Linked DNA regions of Homo sapiens. The protein of the gene in region 6 purifies or fractionates together with the protein of the main gene of each other region. This does not show direct contact. Each region holds a gene or a part of one and is shown on either strand. Other genes may lie near its edges. The genes, in order: OSTM1, PCDHGA5, TMEM98, ZDHHC11, ACKR3, MYRF and PRMT2.

What was found.
Region 1: the proteins of MYRF (region 6) and OSTM1 purify together in Homo sapiens (co-immunoprecipitation; one large-scale study listed by IntAct). This does not show direct contact.
Region 2: the proteins of MYRF (region 6) and PCDHGA5 purify together in Homo sapiens (co-immunoprecipitation; one large-scale study listed by IntAct). This does not show direct contact.
Region 3: the proteins of MYRF (region 6) and TMEM98 purify together in Homo sapiens (co-immunoprecipitation; one large-scale study listed by IntAct). This does not show direct contact.
Region 4: the proteins of MYRF (region 6) and ZDHHC11 purify together in Homo sapiens (co-immunoprecipitation; one large-scale study listed by IntAct). This does not show direct contact.
Region 5: the proteins of MYRF (region 6) and ACKR3 purify together in Homo sapiens (co-immunoprecipitation; one large-scale study listed by IntAct). This does not show direct contact.
Region 7: the proteins of MYRF (region 6) and PRMT2 purify together in Homo sapiens (co-immunoprecipitation; one large-scale study listed by IntAct). This does not show direct contact.

Annotation. Positions count from the first base shown.
Region 1 is NC_000006.12:108,050,742-108,054,241, reverse strand, and holds part of OSTM1 (osteopetrosis-associated transmembrane protein 1 precursor), read left to right. Parts: intron 1-3,043; coding exon 3,044-3,211; intron 3,212-3,500. UniProt on the Homo sapiens protein: Required for osteoclast and melanocyte maturation and function.
Region 2 is NC_000005.10:141,367,162-141,370,661, reverse strand, and holds part of PCDHGA5 (protocadherin gamma-A5 isoform 1 precursor), read right to left. Parts: exon of another isoform or gene 2,879-3,500; intron 421-2,878; exon of another isoform or gene 268-420; coding exon of another isoform or gene 1-267. Other genes in the region: PCDHGB3 (protocadherin gamma-B3 isoform 1 precursor), read right to left, coding at 1-267. UniProt on the Homo sapiens protein: Potential calcium-dependent cell-adhesion protein. May be involved in the establishment and maintenance of specific neuronal connections in the brain.
Region 3 is NC_000017.11:32,926,832-32,930,952, forward strand, and holds the start of TMEM98 (transmembrane protein 98), read left to right. Parts: upstream 1-1,321; 5' UTR 1,322-1,406; intron 1,407-4,068; exon of another isoform or gene 4,069-4,121. UniProt on the Homo sapiens protein: Functions as a negative regulator of MYRF in oligodendrocyte differentiation and myelination. Interacts with the C-terminal of MYRF inhibiting MYRF self-cleavage and N-fragment nuclear translocation.
Region 4 is NC_000005.10:844,487-847,986, reverse strand, and holds part of ZDHHC11 (palmitoyltransferase ZDHHC11), read left to right. Parts: intron 1-206; coding exon of another isoform or gene 207-371; coding exon 372-473; intron 474-3,500. UniProt on the Homo sapiens protein: Endoplasmic reticulum-localized palmitoyltransferase that could catalyze the addition of palmitate onto various protein substrates and be involved in a variety of cellular processes.
Region 5 is NC_000002.12:236,579,825-236,582,854, reverse strand, and holds the end of ACKR3 (atypical chemokine receptor 3), read right to left. Parts: intron 2,416-3,030; 5' UTR 2,390-2,415; coding exon 1,301-2,389; 3' UTR 501-1,300; downstream 1-500. UniProt on the Homo sapiens protein: Atypical chemokine receptor that controls chemokine levels and localization via high-affinity chemokine binding that is uncoupled from classic ligand-driven signal transduction cascades, resulting instead in chemokine sequestration, degradation, or transcytosis.
Region 6 is NC_000011.10:61,751,170-61,755,435, forward strand, and holds the start of MYRF (myelin regulatory factor isoform 2 precursor), read left to right. Parts: upstream 1-1,466; 5' UTR 1,467-1,575; coding exon 1,576-1,621; intron 1,622-1,699; exon of another isoform or gene 1,700-2,190; intron 2,191-2,859; exon of another isoform or gene 2,860-3,276; intron 3,277-4,208; exon of another isoform or gene 4,209-4,254; coding exon of another isoform or gene 4,255-4,266.
Region 7 is NC_000021.9:46,662,649-46,665,624, forward strand, and holds the end of PRMT2 (protein arginine N-methyltransferase 2), read left to right. Parts: intron 1-734; coding exon 735-906; intron 907-1,646; coding exon 1,647-1,679; coding exon of another isoform or gene 1,680-1,726; 3' UTR 1,727-2,476; downstream 2,477-2,976. UniProt on the Homo sapiens protein: Arginine methyltransferase that methylates the guanidino nitrogens of arginyl residues in proteins such as STAT3, FBL, histone H4. Acts as a coactivator (with NCOA2) of the androgen receptor (AR)-mediated transactivation.

The DNA.
Region 1 (3,500 bases), on a different chromosome or scaffold from region 6:
GGTGAGATAATGATTGTGAAAACATTGATTGAGGTGTGTGATTGTTTAATTAAAACACAATGGTTTTCAATCTGACTTACGTAGGTATTTTGCAGTGTAGTATGATTCTGTCTATAGGAAGTTTATTCTTTGCCTGAAATTTGCTTAAGTATGTTTTACCTACCTTAAAAAGCACTGTTTAGTAAGATAACTTTGAGTATTGAATTATGATAATAAAAGGTAGCTTTAAGAATCTTAACCTTGTAGATTATTGCCATCTCTATCTCTGACTCTTGAATTTTGGTATTGGAACTTGCCCGGTCGTGGTGAAGGACGAGGTTGGAACTCTGGTTAAAATGTAGTTTTGAAACTTACATAACAAGTAAGTAATCCCCATAGTAGATGTACACATGCTTAGGGTATAAGCATGTATGATTTCTTCTGTAATAAATGTGGTAACACTGAATTATGAATTTCCTTGAGAATAATAAAAATTGGGCCAGGTGCAGTATCTCATGCCTATAATCCCAGCACCTTGGGAGGCCAAGGCAGGCAGGTCACTTGAGGTCAGGAGTTCGAGATCAACCTGGCCAATATGGTGAAACCCTGTCTCTACTAAAAATACAAAACTTAGCCAGGCTTGGTGGTGCACGCCTGTAGTGAAGTAGAGGTTGCAGTGAGTTGAGATCGTGCCATTGCACTCCAGCCTGGGCGTTGCAGAGAGACTCTGTCTCAAAAAAATAAAATAAAAAAAATTAGGTGAACATTTCTCAGAATTTGTTCTGCAGCATGTTAATAGATGTCCTATCAGAAAGGGTTTAGTATTCCATTAAGGTTGGGAAATGCTTTACTACAGGACTTCAGAGCCTTTAGTGGACTGATGTGTGTTGTAACACTCAAATAGCAATTTTTCTATAAAGTCATCCCTTTTATATATGGCTTCACTTTCCACAGTTTCAGTTACCTGTGGCCAACTGCAGTCCAAAAATATTAAATGGAAAATTCTGGAAATAATAAGTTTTAAATTGTACACCATAAACAGTCTTCTTTTCATTTAACTTAGAGTACTTGTATGAGTTTGGTAGATTTCTAGAAGTAGAATTACTATATTGGCAGCCTAAGAAAAAGACACTAGAGAAAATTATCTCCAAATATGATGAGTTTATTAGGGAATAAGAAAGAAGTATGGTAATTTGGAATGCACTGGCAAACCACCAGTACATCCAGTGAGGGAAGGGTAAAGGGAAGCTTTTATTAGCAAAAAGGGAGAGGTTCACACAAGCTGCTTGGAAACTGAGTTCATTGGTTCCTGAGGCTCAAAGCCAAGTTGTCAGTTCATTGGTGGCGATGCCATTACTGGGCAAGTGTTCTTTTGAGTGCATCTTATCTGAATTACTGCAGTCCTAAAGAATGGCAGTGATAAACCATGTGAAAGCAGGAGTTGCAATGAAGGGCGTGAAAGGATTTCTTGTGGGGTTTTTAGAAAGTCTTTGGAAACAAGGACTCTTTTTGTCTCTATTTTGTCTTGGTCTGTCAAAAGGTGATTTCATCCTAATGTCTGCAACTTTCACATTATTAAAAGATATGTGCATTTTAAATTTGAATAAAAATTGTGGCCAGGTATGGTGGCACCTGCCTGTAATCCCAGCACTTTGGAAGGTTGAGGTGGGAGGATCATTTGAGCCCAGGAGTTAGAAATTAGCCTGGGCAAAATAGCAAGACCGTGTCTCAAAAAAAAAAAAAAAAAAAAAGGTTAAATTACTCCCCATCTAGATTATGTGCACAATTTTAGTTAAATGGATTATGTGCTCAATTTTTTTTTTTTTTTTTGAGACGGAGTCTCGCTCTGTCACCCGGGCTAGAGTGCAGTGGCGCGATCTCGGCTCACTGCAAGCTCCGCCTCCCGGGTTCACGCCATTCTCCTGCCTCAGCCTCCCAAGTAGCTGGGACTACAGGTGCCCGCCACCACGCCCGGCTAAGTTTTGTATTTTTAGTAGAGATGGGGTTTCACCGTGTTAGCCAGGATGGTCTCGATCTCCTGACCTTGTGATCCGCCCACCTCGGCCTCCCAAAGTGCTGGGTTTACAGGTGTGAACCATCGCGCCCAGCCCTGTGCTCAATTTTTAACTAAGTGCACAATTGTTCTGTGAAAAACAAGCAATGGGCTATTTCTTGTAGCAGACTAAGGAGAGACTTAGTTTTTCTGTCAAGCAGATGGTGAGGGTAACATTGTTGGGCCAACATCAGTGTAATTACTTTGATTTTTCTCTTTTCTCTTTCATCCCAATGTTCAGTTAATATTCTTTCTTCATACTACAAAGTAAAGAATAAAGGGCATAGAAAGCAAAGGTGTGAACTGACTGTTTAGCAAACTTATTCTTGAAAAGACAAGTGTCAGTCTAGAAGTACAAAATATTGAGATTTAGTAGCATAATATTTTATGTACCTCCACTATCCTCATTTTAGGTTATACAATTCTTTGGTATTTGGCCCTTTTTGTTGACTAGAAAGGCCTGGATTATGAGCCTTGTGATAAGAGAGTTGAGTGGGGATGCAGTTTTGGTGCCTTTTCCCTTTCCATTTAAAAAGTTCTGTCTCAGTAAGATAAACTATGGTGTTCAAGTCAGCATAGGCAGGAACCTATTTTATTTATTCAGTGAGAGTAGGATAGATAAGTGAGGGTTTGTGATGATGAGATAATTTAGGAAATTTTGTATTTAGTTACTAGTCATTTGGCATATGAATTATTGTTATCCTCAGTTAACATTAGCTAATGCAGCAGTTTTGAAAATTTAGAGGCACCTAGAAAGTTCCAAACAGTTTGCCATCTGCTTCACATACCGGGTCTCTAATCCTTCGGACTTATAATACAGGTAGAGGTCGTTTTATTTTATAGATGATAAAACTGAGACTCAGAGTGATTTAGTAACCTACTCAACATCACAGCTTAGCACTTTAACACACCATATTGTTTCCCGTCTTCTAGAAGCGTAAATAGCTTACATTAAAGAGATATTGTATATAATGTTTATTGTATATATTACATGTGCCTTTGTCATTTTAGGGGAATGCACATAGTCTTTTACAGACAAAAAATTATTCAGAAGTATGCAAAAACTGCCGTGAAGCATACAAAACTCTGAGTAGTCTGTACAGTGAAATGCAAAAAATGAATGAACTTGAGAATAAGGCTGAACCTGGAACACATTTATGCATTGATGTGGAAGATGCAGTAAGTACTTTGCTTCTGATGTGATACATATTTTAGAGTGTTATTGAATGTACCTTCAGTATGATTATTATTTTTGGTGATAGGGTGGAATCTGCATATTCTGTCCTCAACCAAAAATAACTAGTTATAAAGTAGTAAAGTTTTAGAATATCCTGGTCTGTTAAACCAAAATGGATATTTCCTTAGTAGTCTCATGGTTAGGATAAAAATAAAACAGAAATTAATTAGGTACTTCATAAGTGAGTTGATGCTTTGGTACATTTTAATCTTTTTAAATTTGAAAATATGT
Region 2 (3,500 bases), on a different chromosome or scaffold from region 6:
ACGGTCGCTCACAAGTAAGTTCCCATTTTCGGGGCTCACGGTAAAGAATTTCTTCTCTGCAATAACCCGCAGGTTCCTAGTAGGTAAATCCCCCACGCCAAACCCCAGGTCCTTGGCGAGGTTCCCTACCAGCGAGCCCCTGTCCAGCTCCTCGGGAATAGCGTAGCGGATCGGTTCGGAGAGAGCCTGGTCTAACAAAGAGAGCAGGAAGAGAAATAGCATTCGCCTCTGCCCTGCTGGGCCCCTCCATCCGGAGCTATTTCCCATCCCGCTCTCTGCGCCTTTGCCTTTCTAAATCCGAGGAGAGGAGATCTTTAAATAATCCCAAGAGTTCTCCGAGCAGGACCAACTATTTGCTTTGTCTTTGTGCTTGGGTTCTCTAATGGGTGTCTCCGCTGCAGGAAGCCTGATAGAGAGTGCACTTTTCTTCCGAGCTGGCTGCAGCGGGAGGAGCCAATATTTTGCACAGCACTAGCCAAGAGCGGCACCCGGCGCCTCTGCTGCAGAACTGCAGTAATGGTGACTAAATCAGCTCCAAATAAGGAGCTAGTTAGGAGAAAAATCGGCAGTGTACTGATAGTGATACTTTCTTCCCATTTTAAAAGGACTTTTAAAAAACATTAAATATACTTACTATATCTTTAGTCTGTTATTTCTTTTAATTTGAGCTTTATCCATCCAAATCAAGTACCTTTTACTTGTCAAAGGGCAGAGATAATCTTGCTCAATCCCGTCACGTTTTTAGTTTCCATTTTCATAAAATGGTCATAATAATATCTTCTCTGCTTACTCTAGTAGAAATGAGGGCCAAATAAAATAATACATAGAAAATCATACAAATGGAAGCTATTTTTGGTGATGGCAGAAGACGTAGTATAAAGAGGCTTGAAATATCAGCTTCACGTGTATTCTTATTGCATTCTATTTCCTTTACTTCTAACTTCTAAAAGTTATAATGTCATAGCTTTTAGTTTTATTCTATGTTTCACTTTCTTCTCTTTTATCTTTATTATCTCCCCCCAAAAGAAGTTAAAGGTAATGAGGAAATGATTGACCTTATAAAATAGAAGTATAGTAAAAAGCAAGAGGGTCTCTTTTCCTTTGTTTCCAAGTGTCTACTTTTAATTAAATAAGTATGATTGAAAACTTTTTTTTTCTATAGAGGTGGGGTTTCACTATGTTGCCCAGGCTGGGCTAGAACACCTGGCTTTAAGCAATCCTCCCACCTCAGCGTCCCAAATTGCTGGGATTATAGTCATGAACCACCCTGGCCCAAATGAAAAACTTTTACAAAGGATGTTTTTTCATACTACATCACAATTGTCCTGAAATGTACTGTTTCTTCTCAAGTAGCCTAACAATGATGCGTTATTAGGATTGGGGAGTGAATTGTAAGTCCTTATAATTATATTATTTAATTATATAAGTAATCTTCCTGTCCACTTTTCCTTGGTCCCCAGTTTACCATCTGATAATCCTAACTTTTTGTTATTTACACTTTTCCCTGGTCAATAACATGCCATTTTCCATGTTTCTGACAGGTGTCTTACAGTTTTAATTCCATTTTCAAACCAGAAAATCTTCCTAAAGAAATTATCTTTAGCCTACATAATGTATTGTTACTCTAAAACTAGGCAAGTGTGCAGCAATAAGCAATGAGTTCCACACCGAATTCACCTTATAGTGGAAAAGCATTATAGCATCTTAAACTACTCACAGTAACCAGAATTCTAGACAGACACTCATTGTCACCTTTATACAAACATCAAAAATATAACTGACTCAAGACTTTGCTCCAAAACATTCCAAAGCAAGTGCCTTCCAACACAATGCCAAGTGTTCATTGTATGAACACTTCAATTAGTATGAAAAATTATTCTTCAGAACACATATAAAACTAAAGATTCAGATATTTAAAAGTATATGGTATATACAGTACATACATTCAAAATGTATGGATCAAGCATTTTATAGTCTGTTAGTAGTTTATAGAGGGTTTAAAGATATTTTTCCATTGCACAAAACATTTAACTCAGAAGAAATGTACCCAAATCTATAACCTTTACTTTTTTCCCAAACACCTTACCCTAAGAAGCATATAACATTTTCTTTTAAAAAAAATGGAAAAGCAAGTTTTCACATAGGAGTGAATAATGTCGACACCTACTGTATAGATTCTCTTGTTACTCTTTGGATGCATTCACTATTCGGTGAGTTTGTACATTTTACATTTTGGTCAGAATGTCCATGTGTGTATGTATGTGTGTTTGTGTGTGTGTATGTGTGTATATATATGTGTGTATATATATGTGTGTGTATATGTATATAGATATAGATATACTTGAATGCTCTTTAACAGTGTTTAAAAAATAAAAATCAAGTGGTCTTAGGTTCTTTAATGTGTCAATTAACCTTTCATGTGGTTGAGTAATGTAGCTTACTATCCCATTTGTAATATTTTATTACCTTTTCCCCTTATTTAGTCATTATTTGAAGCTGATGCTCAAGGTTTTAAAAGTACAAAATTTGAAGGATTAAGAATATTTTAATAAGAAACATCTGAAAATCATCTTCAGCAAATCAGATGCAGAAGGGAAATATAGTAGTTCTTTCATTACATAACACATCCTCCTGGAATTTGAGGCACATAGGCCAGTATTTCATTAAGACAAATCTATTAATTTAAGATGAGCACATACGTTAGATATGAAATTTAAAATTTTGAACCATCTTTAAGTTGAGTTCTTTTTTTTTCAAATACAACCTTAAACTCAAGTAATAAAGAAGAATTGCACCTACACTTAAAGAAACGCTAACATTGCAGTAGGTATTGATTCTAATAAGTAAAGGGTTTATCTATAACAGAAGATGCCAGGTGTGTGACATATTTACATTTATTGAGTGCAGCAGTATGTAACTCTCTGGAGGCTTTACATCACAGAACGAAGCCCAACCTTAAGGTTCCTTTACACTGATTTCTTCTCTCAACAAGCCCACATATCCAATAACTACATGGCTTAACACAAACTTTCCAGACTTTAGAATGCTACATGTTATCATTAATATAAATTTTATCTACTTTTCTGATATTTATTTATTTATTTATTTATTTATTTATTTATTTTGAGACGGAGTCTCGTTCTGTCTCCCAGGCTGGAGTGCAGTGGCGCGATCTCGGCTTACTGCAAGCTCCTCCTCCCGGGTTCACCCCATTCTCCTGCCTCAGCCTTCCGAGTAGCTGGGACTACAGGCGCCTGCCACCACGCCCGGCTAATTTTTTGTATTTTTAGTAGAACAGGGTTTCACCGTGTTAGCCAGGATGGTCTCGATCTCCTGACCTCGTGATCCGCCCACCTCAGCCTCCCAAAGTGCTGGGATTACAGGCGTCAGCCACCGCACCCGGCCTCTTTTCTGATATTTATGACCCAGAAGTTCTCTGTACCTTTCCACTGATTTATGTAAATACTGTAAATTATTTCCTTAAACAAATTTCAGGTAGA
Region 3 (4,121 bases), on a different chromosome or scaffold from region 6:
GACGTGGTGGCGCACACCTGTAATCCCAGCTACTTGGGGGGCTGAGGCAGGAGAATCGCTTGAACCCAGGAGGCAGAGGTTGCAGTGAGCTGAGATCGTGCCATTGCACTCCAGCCTGGGCAACAGAGCCAGACTCTGTTTCAAAAAATAAATAAATAAATAAATAAATAAATAAATAAAGGCAAGAACCTGGACACCCTCCACCCGTAAACAGCCAAGACTGTGCCACAGCACTCCAGCCTGGGCGACTGACTGAGACTCTGTCTCAAAAAAATTAAAATAAAACAACAAAAGTATGAACCAAAAAAACCACCTCTGTGGGCTGGATGTGGCCTTGGGGGTACCAGTTTGCAGACCCTGTGTCAAGCGGCCTAGGACCCAATCTGTATCCTTTGTTAACTGTCACCGATACTGACCTCAGACCTGGACCACTGGGATCCTGCCCTGAACCCCGTGCTTTAGTTGGCCCACTCCAGCTGGAGCGTATGTTCCCTTCTAGATCATGCTCCTGGTACCCTGGACTCCGGAAATCCCTGTGTAAACAGCCCTGAGCCTGCTTCCAAGGTCTGACTTCCATCCACCCAGGGCAGCCTGCCCTGCCTGGCCTGAGTATCGTTAGAATGAAGGATGGCAGGGTAGGGGGTGTGTGTTTGCCTGAACCAGTAGACCCCCTTCAGTATGTATGGGATGGAGTCGTGTGGGAATAGAAGCAGCAAGACTACTAGCAAGGGCTCTGCATTTGTACTCTTGCCCCTGGCTAGGCAGTCGCCAGGGGTGGGCCTGCTTCTCACTGACCCGTGGGTCAGGCTGTAAATAAGAGCGACCCTCGATTCACTCTTTACCCTGGGCCAGGCAGTCCGATGCATCCTGCATCCCATCATTCCTAATACCAACTCTGAGGATGCTGACAAGCAGCAGCCCCGTTTTACAGACCGAGGCACAAAGGCTGAACTAAGTTGTCCATAGCTAGTGAGTGGCAGAGGCAGGGTTTCAATGGGACAGTCCGTGGCGGAGCACACTGGCTCCGCCGCCAGCCCCCCTGCGGTACCCATCCGCGCTCGCCGCCTGGGACCGCCAGCCCGGGGCGGGGCGCAGGCAGGGACCCTCCGCTCCCCTCTCCGTCTGCCGCCCGGACGGGCCACCGCGGGGGCGCGAGGAAGGGGTGTTGGGTCGCCAGGGCCCGCCTCCCAGCTGCCCCGGCCGCCGGGGGGCCTGGCGGTGACGGCGGCGCCTGGCGGCGGGGATTTGGCGCGGGCCGGGGGCCGGGGGCCGGGGCGCGGGGGCGCGAGGCTGGATTCCTAGGGCCGCGGCGCTTCCCGGCATGCTCCGCTGCAGGCCCGCGCCCGCGCCCGGACTTTGCCATCGGCGGGGCAGTCGCGGGATGCGCCCGGGAGCCACAGCCTGAGGTGGGTGAGCCCCGCCGGGCCGGGCGGGCCGCGGCGAGTCGGGGAAGGGGACGCGGGGGCGCGGGGCCTGGCCCGGCTGCCGGGGAGAGGGGAGGCGGGTGCCGCAGCTTTGTTCTTGCCGCGGGGCCGCGCGCCCGAAGTTGGGGAAAGGAGTAGGAGCCGCGCCCCGGAGCGCTCCGGGGCCCGTGCGGCGCGTCCCGGGCGGGCTGGGGGTCCCTCCCTCCCGGGGACAGAGTGGGCGTCCTGGGTGGACGAGCACGGGGAAGCGGGTAGGGTCTTGGGTCTGTTCTGTCCTTGTGGTTCTGGAACCGGAGGGGAAGGGGGAAAGTAAGGGAGAGAGAAAGAGACGGAGAAAAACAGGAAAACTTACTCTTCAGTACGCAGGGAAGAATAGAGAAAGAAAAACACAAAGAAACGCCACGCAGACTGCAGAGAAGGACCACGAACACACGCTCCGAGAAACACACTCAGCTCACACGCACTGAGAAGCACACTTAAGATAAACACTCAGGTCACACACACAAGCACACTAAGAAACATTCAGTTCACACACACTCAGAAACACACGCACTCAGAAGCACACAAGATAAACACTCAGCTCACACACAGAAGCACACTCAGAAACATTCAGTTCACACACACTCAGAAACACACGCACTCAGAGGCACACAAGATAAACACTCAGCTCACACACAGAAGCACACTCAAACATTCAGTTCACACACACTCAGAAACACACTCCGAGAAACAGTTCACACTCGCTCAGAAGCACACTCAGCTCACACACACAAGCACACTCGGAGAAACATTCAGCTCACACACACTCAGAAACATACTCTGAGAAACACAATCAGCTCACACCCACTCAAGCACACTCAAGATAAACAGCTCACACAAGCACATTCAGAAAACACTCAGAAACATAGCTAACACTCAGAAACACACTCTGAGAAACACAGCTCACACACTCAGAAGCACACTCTGAGAAACAGCTCACACACACAGAAACAGAAAAACAGCTCACGCACACTAACACAAACACACACGGAGAAACACACTTAGAAGCACACTCAGCTCACACACACCCAGAGAAACACGATCAGAGAAACACTCAGAACGCACAGGAAGAGAGAGGAAACCAAGTGGGTGGTCTTGGAGGCCTGGGGACCGGGGGAGGGGAAGGAGAGACACTGAGAAGCGGGAGACGGGAGCAGCAGAGGGAAAGATGCCTGGAAAGAGAAACAGAGATAAAGGCAGACATAAGAGGAGGCAGAAAACACAAAGGCCAAAAGGAGGTGGTTAAAAGGACAGTAAAGAGAAACACACACGTAGAGAAACAGAGGCGGACCCTGAGAATTACCCCCCTCCCCCACCTACCTCTCACAAAATCAGCGACACACACAGAAGAGGCAGATGCCAGCCTTCTCCTTCTTGTGGTCCAGTGAGCTCGAGATGGGAGAGCAGCTCTGTGAGCCCTTTGAGAAAGGCTTCCTTGGCACTTTAAGCCAGGCATGTCCCAACCTTGTCTACCTGGCAAACTCCTGCTCATCCTTCAAAACCCAGCTCTAGCCTCACCACTCCTGTGAAAGTGTCAGTTCCCAGAAAGTGTCATGCAAGCACAGTTACTCTCTTTTCTGTGTTCTTCTGCAGGAAGCACAGGCACATGGAGTTGAAGTGGTTTGTCACCTGTCTGCCTCTCCCACCAACTCCTTAAGATCAGGGTCTCTGTCCTATCTATCTCCAATCTCCAGTGCATGATGCATAGTAGATGATCAATAAATACTTAGTGAATGGTGACCGAGAGCGTTTGGACCCTCCGAGACATGGAGGATAGAATTAAGTGCAAATAGAGGAAAAGCACCCTCCTGGTATTCTAAGGACTCCTAAGTCAGAGTGTCTTTTTTTCACGTGGGGAAATTAAAGCCCAGAGAGGGGAGAATGCTTGCACAAAGAGAGACAAGCAGGAGGCCTACAATGAAATAACAGTGAATATGTACTTCTGTGAGATGCCCTTGTTCTTCTGGCTTATGAGTTTAAAATAGGTGTGAAAGACCCCGTTCTTCAGTTCCTCTCTCCAGAGGCAGCTACTGTTATCAAGTTACATTTTATGTGTGTTTGTGCCTATCGATGTGTTCATACTAAAAAAATTCTGTGCACTAGTATATACAAATGCACGGACTTCTTTCATTCTTCTTTTGTACACAAATAAAAGAATTCTATGAGAAAAAGAAATAGATGTGAAACAGTCTCCTGAGTGAAAACTGGCAAGAGGCAATGGACACTTTAATGCCAGTTCTAAGTTTCCAACACTGAAACTGGCAATTAGAACTCTTTCCAGAACCTTTACAGTCTTCTTTCTTCCTTAGAAAGGAAAAGTAGAGTGAATGTCCATCTCAGTGTAAGTGGATGGCTTTCCATCTCCTGACTGCATATTGGAAAAATTCTGTAACCTCCCTGAACCTCAGTTTCCTCAACTGTAAAATGGGATTACTAATATGTCCACTTCATAAGATTGTTGTTGGAAAAGTTAACAAAGAACCTGGTGCAGAGTAGATCCTCAGTAAATACAGTTTCATCTTTCCTCTCTTTAATGGGTGTTCTTTTGTGCATGTTTTTATGGCTGCGAAAACAACTGCTAGTTAAAATGTTTCCTTTTGTCTAGGGTTTAAAAAGCTATTTTAAGGCCGGGCTCGGTGTCTCACGCGTGTAATCCCA
Region 4 (3,500 bases), on a different chromosome or scaffold from region 6:
CTGTAGGCACAGGTGGGATCCAAGCCCCCGGCCTCAACTCCTGGAACCATGGGGCAGGCGCGGCCTCCTCCAGGGCCATGGCCCAGAGTGAGGCTGGTGTAGGACGGCTGGCGGGGGGTCTATGCTCAGGGCGGCCAAAGACACAGCTCCTCCTGCTCTGTGGCTACCTCTGCCCACAGCTGCCCTGCTTCTCCTCCTCCCCACAGGCCTCAACACCCTCCCCCAGCCTCCCATTCCCTGCTGGACGCCCTCTCCCCAGGCCGCACAGGGCTGGTTCCTCCGAGGCACCTGGCTTCCAGTGATGGACCTCTGGCCCTGCCCCAACCTGCGCACTTGGGGCCTGACAGGCGTTCCCCGATTCATCCCTCCAGGAACAAGAAAACCAAACACTGCATTTCCTGCAATAAGTGTGTGTCCGGCTTCGACCACCACTGCAAATGGATCAACAACTGCGTGGGAAGCCGGAATTATTGGTGAGGGGCACAGAGGGGATGGCCGGCACGGGCCAGGCTTGGGGGAATTTGGAAGGGAGGGGTCTGTGGGCAGGGGTCATCGTGTTGAAAGGGTGGAGGGTCCTCTTGGGGCCGCGTCCCTGTCCTGATGTGGTGGCGCTTGGTGCCTGCGTGCCCCGGCCTCCTGTCTGGCTCTGGGGCTGTGGTGCAGCCGTCCCTGGACAAGCTCATCCGCATAGAGTAAGTCCCTGGAGGCCCCCCGGGGGCACTTGCGGGGCCACGCTGGCTGAGGCCTCCTGACCACGCTGTCCTGGGCTGGGCTGCCTTCTCTCCACCCAGGCTGAGGCTCATCCAGCACAAGGGTGGGGCCACGGAAGGGCAGTGGGCACCCAGCGCAGATGGGCGAGAGGTGTTTCCCCTGAGCATGGTCGAGGCTCACAGATGAGAGGTGTTTCCCTGAGCACGGTGGAGGCTCATAGACGAGAGGTGTTTCCCCTGAGCACGGTGGAGATGCAAGGAAGAGAGATGTTTCCCTGAGCACGGTGGAGGCTTACAGATGAGAGGTGTTTCCACTGAGCATGGTGGAGGCTCACAGGCGAGAGGTCTTTCCCCTGAGCACGGTGGAGGCGCAAGGATGAGAGGTGTTTCCACTGAGGATGGTGGAGGTGCAAGAACGAGAGGTGTTTCCCCTGAGCACGGTGGAGGCTCACAGATGAGACGTGTTTCCCCTGAGCACGGTGGAGGCTCATAGACGAGAGGTGTTTCCCCTGAGCACGGTGGAGGCTCAAGAACGAGAGGTGTTTCCCCTGAGCATGGTGGAGGCTCAAGGACGAGAGGTGTTTCCCCTGAGCATGGTGGAGGCTCACAGGCGAGAGGTATTTCCCCTGAGCACGGTGGAGGCGCAAGGATGAGAGGTGTTTCCACTGAGGATGGTGGAGGTGCAAGAACGAGAGGTGTTTCCCCTGAGCACGGTGGAGACTCACAGATGAGACGTGTTTCCCCTGAGCACGGTGGAGGCTCAAGAACGAGAGGTTGTTTCCCCTGAGCACGGTGGAGGCTCATAGATGAGAGGTGTTTCCCCTGAGCACAGTGGAGGATCCAGGGACTCTCAAGGCCCCGTGTGCTGAGCCCCGGCTGTCTGCAGCACTGTATTGTGAAGATCACCAGGGAAAAGAACCACGCCTGCTCCCCAGCTACTCTGTGCTGACCTGAAAGAGGCCTTGGTGTGCGTGGGAGTGGGGACCAACGTTGCCTGGTGTCACAGGACGCACCGGGCGGTCCCTGCCCTGCCTCCCTGCCATCCCGTCTGGAGCACAGCATGTGTCCAGAGAGGCTGAGCAGCCCGGCAGGGACAGAGAGGTTGCATGACCGCACAGCGAGTCCAGAGGCTGCGTGAGATGGTAGGGGCCGGGGAGACCCACCGGCCTCCTCCCCTGGAGAAGAGCAGCTCCACGATGGCCAAGGTGGGGCCAGCTCCTCTGGCTCATGCTAGCCCCAGGTGCCACTTCCTTCTGGACTCATTCTGCTCTGGTGCCTCGAGCTGGCTCAATCTGGCGGGTCCTGGTGGGGAAGGTGAGGGGGTGAGGGCCCACAGGCAGGTGGCAAGGAGAGGGTCTGCCTTCCTCAGGAGGGGTGCTGGAGAGGGACCACGTGGGTGCCAAGTGTAGACACCGCCTGGGTGTGGGAAAGGGGCATCAGGAGAGCAGGGCCGGGGTCATGGGCGCCCTCAGCTCCAGGCAGCAGCCAACGCCGGCATCTGTGCCAACCTCGCTTCTGTCCCTTCATCCGCCAGAGGCGGAGAGAGCAACGGCATTGAGAGCAAGATGAGGAAAGTTGAGGAGCTGATGGCAGAGCCCCCGCGAGGGAGGCCGAGCTGATGGCGGAGCCCCCATGGGGAGGCCCAGCTGATGGCAGAGCCCCTGTGAGGGAGGCTGCATACTTCGTAGTGATAAGAGAGGAAGGGGGACGGAAAGAAGGCAGGCGGCGCTGGTGTCCTGGGAAGACTGTGAGCGCTGGCCTCGGACTCTGCAGGTTAAACACAGGCAGCAGGGGCAGGAGGCTGTGCTAACCAAGAGGAGAATGTCCCTGGGTGGCTGCGGGGAGAGGAGGCCCCGCGTGAATGGCTCTGCCCCATCCTGTGGGCTTTTGTCTCTGTGGTCTTAGAGACCCGCCTTCTTTCCTGGATGAAGAGGGGAGTCCTGTCCAGACAGTAGGATGAAGATGAGGGGTCTTTACTCCCCACAAGTGGGCTCAAGCCCAGGAGGACTGGGGGCAGGGTAGGGCGTGTCCGCTGCCTGGAGGGGCTGCTGCTTGGGAAACCTAAGCTGTGAGAGGGAAGGCAGTATGAGGGAGCAGCAGTCAGGGAGCCGCTCATGCCTGGAGCCACCCGTCACCCCTGGATTATCCAGAAGACTCTTGGAGGGAGGAGGAGCGCGGGGAAGGCAGCTGTGCCCTAACTGCCTCTTCGGAGGACTGCGGCATTCATGCTCTGGCCTCCAGTTGAAAATAGAAAAAGGGATTTAAACAAGCTTAGGTGAACATAATACAATGGAAAGGATTAAAGGAGGTTAAAGGATACTTTTAAAAAAATATCATCATGGCAGAAAGACCAAGGGAAGATGGTTTAGTCAAAGTATGTTCCAGGAACTGCTGCCCAGAATTGGTTTTTGTGGATGGATTATTCTCTGCATCTTTTGAGCAAAGACGAGAGACTGGGAGTGGATTTGGTCTCACGTCTACAGCATGGACATCGCTTTTGGCTCAGATTTGCACGAGACCCTTGGAGAAGGGGGGACTGCAGCCGAGGTGTGGCCGGGCTCCTCCAGGGCCTCCTCAGCCCGAGTTCCCTTTGGGTGCAGAGATCCAGGTCCCTGAGCCTGCAGGCCCTCCTGGGTGCCACGGCACTCTCGTGGCTCTCCCCTTCCCTGGCTTCAGTGCCTTTGCCCAGCATGGTGCCATGGAGACCCCAGCACAGACCATGCTCAGGGCCCCCCGAGTGGACCGAGCCCGCGTGCTCCTTGGCTGGTAGGGAGGCCTGTCTGCATCAGG
Region 5 (3,030 bases), on a different chromosome or scaffold from region 6:
TAAATGAAAACTCTCAATAGGAAATATTGCCCCTGGAGGTGTTTACCTTAGCAGATGAGATTTAAGGGGCTGTGCCACTGGCCCTGGAAGCACACAGGTGGTACAGATGAGGACACCAGTCCTGCACCCTGAAACTCTCCTGTCTGGACGGAGAGTTCAGACAGGTTCAGAACAGAGATGGCTCTGGCCAGCAGGAAGTAGAAGCAAGTGGCACCTTCTCTGTGCCAGCCTTCTCTCCTAGCTGGACCCTAGCAATCATCCCCCACACCAAAAACACTATTGCCTGAAAATTTTTTTAAAAACCATGCAGTGTGCTCAAATGATTTTTTCTTTTTATATCATTTCAAACAAGTTAACCTGGTAGCTTTTGCTTTACAGCAGCACTCTTTTTCTGAGCATGTTCATGCAGGTGGCCTGTGTGTGCCATATATATCCATGAATTATTATCATGTGTGCTATTCAAGTGCCAAAACACACTTTGAAAACTGAGACTTGATGCATTTTTAGGAAACAAAAATCTTTATTAAAAAAAAATAACTTACAAATTGAGAGAACTCTCTGAAATGCAACTGTTCGTTGTGTGTGCAGATTTGCAGTCCAGAACAGTTTTTTGTTTATTTTAAAATGTAACTTTACAATACTATTAATGTCACAAACTGCATTACAAAGCAGTTTTCGTTCCATATCCCGTGCCGGTACAAAACACCACACAGATATAAAACTATGGTAAATAAAACATTTCAGCCAAGACTGGCATATATTTATATATTTATATATATTTATATATATATAATTTCAAAACAGCTAACAATTAGTGTCATCCTTAGTCAAAACTGAAGTCACGCTAACCTTAAAACTACAACACTCTGAATATATGTCAGCACTATGCCTCCCAAACAATATTTAAAATATATTTAACTTTCAAATACATTTATAAGGTACACCAATAGTGAGAAAATAAAGTCTTAAAATTTAAATACAAATCACCATATAAAAAATTCAGGAAACACAGAAAATCCTATCTTACAGAAGTCCAGGCAAGCCTGTCCTCAGCTGGCTCTGACGCACAGCACTGCTGTGCGACACAGCTCTGCCTGTTGCAAAACTGTCAGCACGCACAGCCAAATGACAGCTGCGTCATCAAGAGAAAGAGAGAATGGATGCAGGGGGCACGTGCTCCCCTCTTCACTCTACTCAAGCATCAAGACCCGAAGCTACTTTGCTTTGCTCTAGAAAACCATAGGGCCCATCACCCTGTTCAAAAACAAGTAAACCCGTCCCAGAGCCTCTCCAGGGCAGATCATTTGGTGCTCTGCTCCAAGGCAGAGTACTCCGTCTCTGAGACTCTGGAGGCATCGATGAGCTTGGTGAGCCCTGTTTTGGCCGAGTACTTGAAGATGAAGGCCTTCATCAGCTCGTACCTGTAGTTGCGATTGATGAAGCTGTAGAGGACAGGGTTGACGCAGCAGTGCACCAGCGACAGGCACTGTGTGACATGCAGGGCCGTGAAGAGGGCGTGCTCCAGCCGGCAGGTGAAAGGGATGTAGTGCAGGATGGAGAAGATGTCCAGCAGCACCGCCACGTGGTAGGGCAGCCAGCAGACAAGGAAGACCACCACGTAGGAGAAGATGATCTTCCGGCTGCTGTGCTTCTCCTGGTCACTGGACGCCGAGATGGCTCTGGCCAGCAGGAAGTAGAAGACAGCGATAATGGAGAAGGGAACGGCAAAGCCCAAGACAACGGAGACCAGCTCCATGCCGATCAGCCACTCCTTGATGCTGTGCTCGGGGTAGAAGGACCGGCAGTAGGTCTCATTGTTGGACGCAGACGTGACGGTCTTCAGGTAGTAGGTGTCAGGCAGAGACACGCAGAAGGCCAGCAGCCACACCAGGATGCAGACGACACGGCGTACCATCTTCTTCCTGCTGCTGGGGGTGTTGGTGAAGTAGGTGATGGAGAGGTAGCGGTCCACGCTCATGCACGTGAGGAAGAAAATGCTGCCGAAGAGGTTGATGGAGAAGATGAGGTGTGTGACTTTGCACGTGAGCTCGCCCATGGGCCACTGGTTGTGCTGCACGAGACTGACCACCCAGACTGGGATGGTGAGGACAACCCACAGGTCGGCAATGGCCAGGTTCAAGATGTAGCAGTGCGTGTCATAGCCTGTGGTCTTGGCCTGGATATTCACCCAGACCACCACGGAGTTGGCAATCATGCCGATGACGAAGATGAAAATGTAAATGAAGGAGAGCGTGTAGAGCAGGACGCTTTTGTTGGGCATGTTGGGACACATCACCGTGTCCACCACGATGCAGTCGCTGCTGTTGCATGGCCAGCTGATGTCCGAGAAGTTCCCTGGCTCTGAGTAGTCGAAGAGATGCAGATCCATCGTTCTGAGGCGGGCAATCAAATGACCTATGAGAAAACCAAGCAAACAAAAAAGATGGAAGAGGAAAGTCACTTCATTAGGAAAAACTCAAGTTTCAGGCAAAAATGCTTTTCCAAGGCCCTGATAGGCTCAGCTGTTTGGGTTTAGCTCTGTAATGTCTTTGCAAAGAAGGGAGAAAAAAAATTCATAATAAAACTCTCCAAAACAAAATAAATCATACTCTGAATCTAAATCCATGTGGTGCTCCAAGACAGAAACTGTGTTTGCTTTCTCCATCTTTTCATGGCTGTGTTCTCAAGACACCGCCAGCATGGCTGTGCCCAGTGTGTGAAATCAACACAGTACAGGGGCCAAAGAAACGTCAGGCAGCTGAGCCCCGGCCACCGCGATGCTGATGGCCTGCTCACTCTCAGCAGGGGACAGTGGAGCCATTTTATCTAGGTCCCCAAAGAATGGCAGGGTTGTCCTCTCCTGGCACTGCTGTATTACAAGTGTCCTGCTTTGGTGTCTTAATGAAAGCATTTCAAATCCTCCTCCAAATTTGCATTTATAATGTGACTCAGCACTTTTTACTTGTCTGCTAAATTCACATATAAACCTGGGTCTCAGGCGGCCCCAGTGTGCAGTCATAAAGCCTCTGG
Region 6 (4,266 bases):
ATTCAGTGAGCAATGGAGAGAGGGGAAGAGCTGAGGCCAGTGGTAGAGGCGGGGCCTGAGAAACCAGAGCAAGACATTCAGATATTGTTTTGAGTGCAAAGGGAAACTTAGTTTTGCAAAGGAATGACATGATCGGATGTATGTTTCAGAAAGGGTGATTTGGGAGAACTGAAGGGGATATCAGTGAGACGAGAGGCTGTGCAAGTTGGGCAGGACAGAGATGTGGAGGCAGTCAGTCATAAGGGTGAAGGCAGGGGCACAAGGACAACCGCTTTATCCTGGACTTATATCGAGTTAGAACCTCCAGGTTTCATTATACCAGACAGGGCCACGGCAAAGGAGAGTTCGGATTCCCGGGGCAGCCAGGATTTGGCTCTGAACTTTAATGACCTTGAAACTCTTAGGCAGGGCGGGGAGCGGTGGCTCATGCCTGTAATCCCAGCAGTTTGGGAGGCCAACGTGGGCTGATCACCTAAGGTCAGGAGTTCGAGACCAGCCTGGCCAACATGAGGAAACCCCGTCTCTACTAAAAATACAAGTTAGCCCAGCGTGGTGGCGCCTGTAATCCCAGTTACTGGGGAGGCTGAGGCAGGAGAATCGCTTGAACCGAGGAGGCAGATGTTGCAGTGAGCTGAGATCGCGCCATTGCACTCCAGCCTGGGCGACAGAGCCGAACTCCATCTCAAAAAAAAAAGGAGCTTTTAGACCTGCATTGTCCAATACCACAGCCACACGTAACTGTTTAATTACAATTAAACAAAATGAAAAAATCAGTTCCTCAGTCTCAATAGGCACATTTCCAGTGCTCACTTGTGGCCAGTGACTACCATACTGAACAACACAGGGAACATTTCCATCATCACAGCCACAGGACAGGGCTTCCTGGCAGTCCTTAATGCATTGAGCCTCAGTTTCCCCATCTGTAAAATGCAGGTAACAACAGCATCTCCTTGATAAGGTGCCTGTGAGGAGTACATGAGATAATGCCTGTGTGGCCTGGCACATAACACACGTTCCCTAAATGCAGGTTGTTATTGTTGCTGAGCGGGGTGTGTGGGTGGCTAACGAGAGGGATGGGGGCTGTCTCTGAGGTTTGGATTCGGAATCGTGACATCTTGTCCCGTGCAAGACGAAGGCGAGGACGGCGAGGGCACACCCTTCCAGTCCCGACCCCACAGAGGCCAAGCGGCCCTTCGCCCCCACCCCGACCCGGGAAGGCCCCGCGCCCCTCAAGCCTGGGACGGTCTCGCGTCCCCCGACCCGGGACGGCCCCGCGCCCCGCAAGCCTAGGACTGCCCAGCGCTGAGCGCCGCCTGCAGGAGTCGGGAGCGTGGTGCCCGCGGCCGGGCTGGGCGCGGCGCGGGCCGGCAGGGGGCGCTGGGCGCGGCGGGCGGGGCGCGTGGGGCGGGCAGGGGCCGGGCCAGGGACGCGCGGGGGGCAAGCGCGGCGGCGGACCGGGCGGGACCGTAGCCGGAGCCCAGCCGGGACTGTCGCGCGGGCCGCGCCGGCGATGCCGCGCCCCCGGGCCGGGCTGTAGCGGGGCCGCGGCTGGAGTGTGCGCCGGGCAGGCGGGACATGGAGGTGGTGGACGAGACGGAGGCGCTGCAGCGCTTCTTCGAAGGTGAGAGACCGCGGGCTGGCGGCGGCGACCCTCTGGCGCTGGGAACCCCCGGCTGATCTCCCCGGGAACTGGGGCTCCTCGCTGTGTTTCCGCCTCCTCTGGCTGGGACCCTCCTTCAGGCTGGCACCAGCCCGCCAAGACAGGCTCCCGGGGCTGGGAGTCCCCCAGCGGTTACCACCCACCGCCGCTGAAGTTGGGCTCCCCCTCCCCGCTCCTCAACTCGCAGCTTCCTTGGGACTGTGTCCCCTTCCAGGTCCGGACTCCTTTGAGCCTTCCAGGACCCGGAACTTTCCCTAAATTGTGACACTCTCGCCCCCAGCAAACTTCCCGAGTCTGGGGACCCTCTACTTTGCTTCCCCAGAACCCCAAGCGGGATACAACCCCATTCAAGGCCCAGACCCCCGGTGTGCCTTCTAGGACCTTCCGTACCTCTTGAGGCTGGACCCCAGCCTGCTTCCCAGAATCTGTGACCCCCGCCTAGAGACCAAGACCCCCTGTGTGCCCTTCTGGTTGGCGCCATCCCCCATGACTTCTAGGAGCTGGGACCTCCCCACTGTGCTTCCATGAGGGTAGGACCACTTTCGAGCCTGGATCCCCTTGGAGACTGCCACCTGCTTTCCACAATGCTGCCTAGTGACTGCTCTCCTGTTTGGGGCTGGGACCCCCCTCCCTAGCATGCTCTCCTGGGGCTGGAACCTTCTTGAAGCTGACATCCCTGCCACCGGTCACCTCTGCTCTCTGAGACCCTTCTAGTGCTGTGAACTGCATCCCACCAGCCCTCTGAGGCTCCTCAGCACTATGTCCCCCCAACCCTGGAGCTGTGCCTCTCTGACCTCGCCCCCTCAAAGAGTGACCTCACCCCCACTTGACCGAAAGGAGCCCTCTGGGGTGGAATTGACATACACCCCATAATATCTTCTTCTGCCCCCACCCCTACATTGGTTTTGGAGGTCTGCTCCTCCATCTAACCAACTCCCTGTCTTTTCCTGGACGACCCCTGCCCCTCCTGCAGGGCCACCACTCCTCCTGGTGCTGGGTTCTGGAGGGATGGGACCGCAGTGGGAGGGGGAGGGGAAGTTCTGGCTGACTGCCTCCCAGCCCACTCCGCTTCTCAGAACCTCCCTGGAACATCTAGCCAGACCCTCTGGCCCCCTTTTGTGCCCCTGTCTACCAATGCAGCGAGCCCAGCCCCTGCCCCGAGCTCCCTCTAGTCCCTAAGGCCACATCCTGCTCCTTGGTGCATTGAGAACCTTCCCTTCATGTGTGAACCTATCAGGGCTACAGGGCAGGGAACCAAGGCCCAAGTTTCAAGCCCCAGATTCCTGTGGAGTCCTGTGGAGGAGAGAAGCAGGTCTTCCGGTGCCTCAGTTTCTCTCCCTCTGTGACTTGGGAGGCAGGAACCCTTGTTCACACCTGCTGGCTGAGCAGCCCAGGCAGGGGCACCCCTAAGCCTCAGTCATCCCACTCCAGGATTCTGGACACCCCACAGACCCAGAACCCAAGAGTTCAGGCTTGGACTAGATTGAATGGTTGACTCTGCATCAGGTGGGCCATCTGAGGGTCTTAGGCAGCCCTGCATCTGTCCCGGGGCTCTGGCTCTCCCCAGACACTGTTGATCCATAGGAGCTCTCGAGGGGCCTGACGCGGTTTGAGACCTTCAGGGAAGAGGGGACCAGACATTCGTGCTTGCTTGGGTTACTGTCTGGAGTGCCTTGAGCCTGCTAGGTACCCAGAGGACCCGCAGGCCAGGCTCCCTTGACCTCCACACTGCCTGCCCCAGGACGCTGGGCCCTGACAGAGAGCAGAGGGGTGGGCCTGGCTGGCCTGGACTCCCTGGCTCCCTCCTGACCATGGGTTGGGGGGTGGGGGCTGACGCCACGGCTTAGCCATGCAGCGGCCTGGCGGGGGGAGGCTGCGCTACTCCCTCCAGAGAGATAAGAGGAGACTCAAGAATGTCTGTGGGGAGCAGGGGAGGGGTGTGAGGCTGCCCGTCTAGGAGGGCTGGGCTGGAAACAGCTCCCAGCCCCTGCGATGGGGGAAGGTGTGGGTGGCCCCTGAGGCCTAGGGTCTCCAGGCCACTTGGGAGGGGAAGGCCCATGTGGGGGACCCACTGTAGGTGTGAGAGAAGGCCTGGGAGTGGCAGGGCCTGGTGTGCTTGTGAGTGTGTGAAGTGCGAGGGAGCGGGAAGTTGTGCTTTTGAGCCGTGGCTGCGTCACTCTTGAGTGCTGTCACACTCGGGGCTGGGGCTGGGGACACCTGAGCTCTCATCCTGGTCCCCACTTGGCCTTGGTCATCCCTCTGGACAGTGGGTAGCAGTCCCTGTGCTCTCGGCTCTGGGCTGGGAGACTGGGAAAGGGTTTTACCGAAGGGGCTGCAGCACAGCGCGCCCCCTCACCTGACGTGGTCCCCCTCCCTGGGCACACACCAAGCATAGGTGCTGGGTCCTGCCCTGTGCCGGTGGTGGGCTGGGGGCTAAGGCGCTTTGGACCTCAGGTGGGAGGCCGGGACAGAGCGGCCCCCTCGAGGCTGGTACAGCCGGGCCCCCGTGACCGCCCGGCTAATCCCCTAGAGAGAGGCAAGGCAGCCCAGATCGGCGGGCACAGGGCCTGCAGAGAGGGGACCCACCGGGCAGGATGCACTGGCTT
Region 7 (2,976 bases), on a different chromosome or scaffold from region 6:
GGGGTGAGGGGTGTGACCAGAGTCAGGGAAAAACTGGAGACCTGAGGAGCCCCCCACTTCACTGCTGGCCCCACCGTGGACAGTGGGAGTTTGAGGGAAGACAGAGCCTGAGGAACTTAGAGATGTTTCCAACGCAACCCAGTGCAGAATCATAGCGTTTTACTATTTCCCCCCAAATGTGACAGTTGTCCTCACCTTGTAACCTTCACAGAAGCGACTCCTTGGACCTGATTCTGTCTGTGTACACCACAGTTTAACAGCAGGAGCTAGATCACCAGCCTCTGCAGCTTAGGCAAGGGTGCAGGAAGGGGTTGCACAGCCGTCCTCCTGGCGGGCCGGGGAGTCGACACCACACGGGACCTTTAGTGCAGCTGTGTGTCCCCTGAGCTCCCGCATCCTCTGGGCCACCCAGGGTGAGCCGTCCACACCTCCTGGAATCTGAGTGGTCTCAGGAGCAAGCTTGTGTTTGGCATTGGCAGGATCTGTCTCACTAGCGTAACTTTGATCCCAGTGTATCCCATAGAGTCCCTTTAGATCACAGGGCTGGGGGTGTATATGTTCCCTGAGTTAGCCTGAAAAGCCAAGCTTTGTGTCCCCAGGCCCTCAGGGTGGACTGCCGGCTGTGTGGGTGCTGTTGGGGGCGAGAGCCAGTGCGAGCCTGAGTCAGCGCCCCGAGGGCCATGTGGAGACTGCCCTAGCTCAGCCTCCAGGTCACACGCACCCCTGTCTTGCAGCACCACACACTGGAAGCAGACGCTGTTCATGATGGACGACCCAGTCCCTGTCCATACAGGAGACGTGGTCACGGGTTCAGTTGTGTTGCAGAGAAACCCAGTGTGGAGAAGGCACATGTCTGTGGCTCTGAGCTGGGCTGTCACTTCCAGACAAGACCCCACATCTCAAAAAGTAAGATACGTAGTTGTAAGATTCTGTCCTGTGGGTGCCGGTCCTCAGGGAGACAGGCCTGGGTGGTGGTAGTGATGGCAGATGCTGGCCCACACTGGGGTCCACGCCTTTTGTGCAGGAGTGATTTAATCCTTACACAGAAAGCGCCTGTTGTCATTGGCTTCATTTCCCATCTGACAGCACGGGAAGTGGAGGGCTCTGGAAGGGAAGTCAGGGAAGTCATTCCCTCAGGTGACACGGTAAGTGAGGGAGAGCAGAGACCCACATCAGCCTGAGGCCCCTTGTGCCATGTCCAGAGGGTCCCCCAGATGGACAGAAGCCTGAGCTGTGCCTTGGCGCTCCCTTTACACAGGCCTCTGTGGCTTCCCAGGCAGCAGTTAGTCTAGGCGTGTCGTCTGTGATGCGTGTTCTGACTGGCAGCCTTCGGATCCGTGTGTGAATTCATGTGTAGCTCGCCCAGCTCACTTGGGCTTCCTGTCTCAGAGGCTGCTGAAAATGGAATGTTCTTCTTTGGGCTCAGGATTAATGTGGCAAAGAAAATAAAAATAAATGGTTTTCCTTCATTTTTTATATTTGTTTTGTGCTTTGCTTTGTGATAAGTTTTTGTTAAAAGTTTGTCATTTAAAAAAATTCTGCACCTGAATACTGTTCTCTTGTCCAATATTAAACCATTAGGAAATGTAGTATGTTAATCAAATGATTTATCATCTGATTGACCTGTTGTCATTTATCTTTTTCAGGTTGGAGAAAAAGTCTTCCCCATCTGGAGATGACAGTTGATGCTTTATTTGGAAAGCAGTGTGCATATCTTGAGGGGTGATGAACACAAGCAAACCAAGTTGCACCTGGCTTCTGCACACTCCTGCGAAAGTCGGTGAACATTCACTCCACATTGACCCCTCCCTAGCCTGGCAGGTGACGTCAGGGTCCTTCACAGACAAACACGCTTGGGCTCGGCAGGAGCTGCCGTGGCCACCCCCGCTGCCCAGTGTCTGCCCTCTAGAAGTAGGCTGTGTTTCCAGGTGTTCACCCGTGGTGCCCACAGTGCCGACCCGTGGCTGGGTCGGAGCTCCATGTTCCTAAGCTAGGTCTAGGTCTACACTCCTAGGACGCACGCATATCAGCCCGTGTACCCTGTGACAGTGACTGTCCCCACCTCCTATGTTAGTGGTGCCCTTACTGCCGTCGCTCATCCACTCGTGTGGGACGTAGGATTGCACAGGGCTGTGCCAGTGGCGTGTAGGGAACACTGCCCTGGCTCAGCGTGCGAGCTAAGGTGGTGATGTATGCGATGGGACTCTGCATGGGATAGTACAGTTGTGTAGACGTCTTCCAAATAAATTATGTGTTGGTCCATCGCACATGCTCAATAAATATTTTTAAATGAGTGAATGTCATTGTGTATCCTGTTTTATGCATATATGTTATTTTTTGTAATTACAGGATCATACTATATGCATTGCTTTATAAGTTTTTCTCAATATTGTGAAAAAACTTCCACATCAGTAGATACATGTCCATAATTTTTTTTTGTATTGTTTTGATTTTTATTAAATTTTATTGAAATATAGGCTGGGTGCAGTGGCTTACCTCTGTAATCCCAACACTTTGAGAGGCTGAGGTGGGATGATTCCTTGAGCTCAGGAGTTCAAGACCACCCTGGGCAACACAGCGAGATACTATCTCTACAAAAAAAATAGAAAAATTAGCTGGGCATGGTGGCGTGTGCCTGTAGTCCCAGCTACTCGGGAGGCTGAGGCGGGGGGATCACTTGAGCCCAGGAGGTTGAGGCTGCAGTGATCTAGGATTGCACTGCTGCACTCCAGCGTGGGTGACAGAGCAAGACCCTGTCTCAAAAACCCCAAAAAACAAAACTGAAATATCAAATATATATTGAAAACAGTGCTAGTCATGGGTACATAGATGATGGCATTTTATAAAGTGGACGCACATGTAACCAGCATCCAGGCCAGGACACACTACAGATTCCCCGATTCCCCTTCCACTCAGTGCCCACCCTCTCAAGGGTGATGTCCTGACTTGTAACTGTCGATTACTCTTGCCTGAATG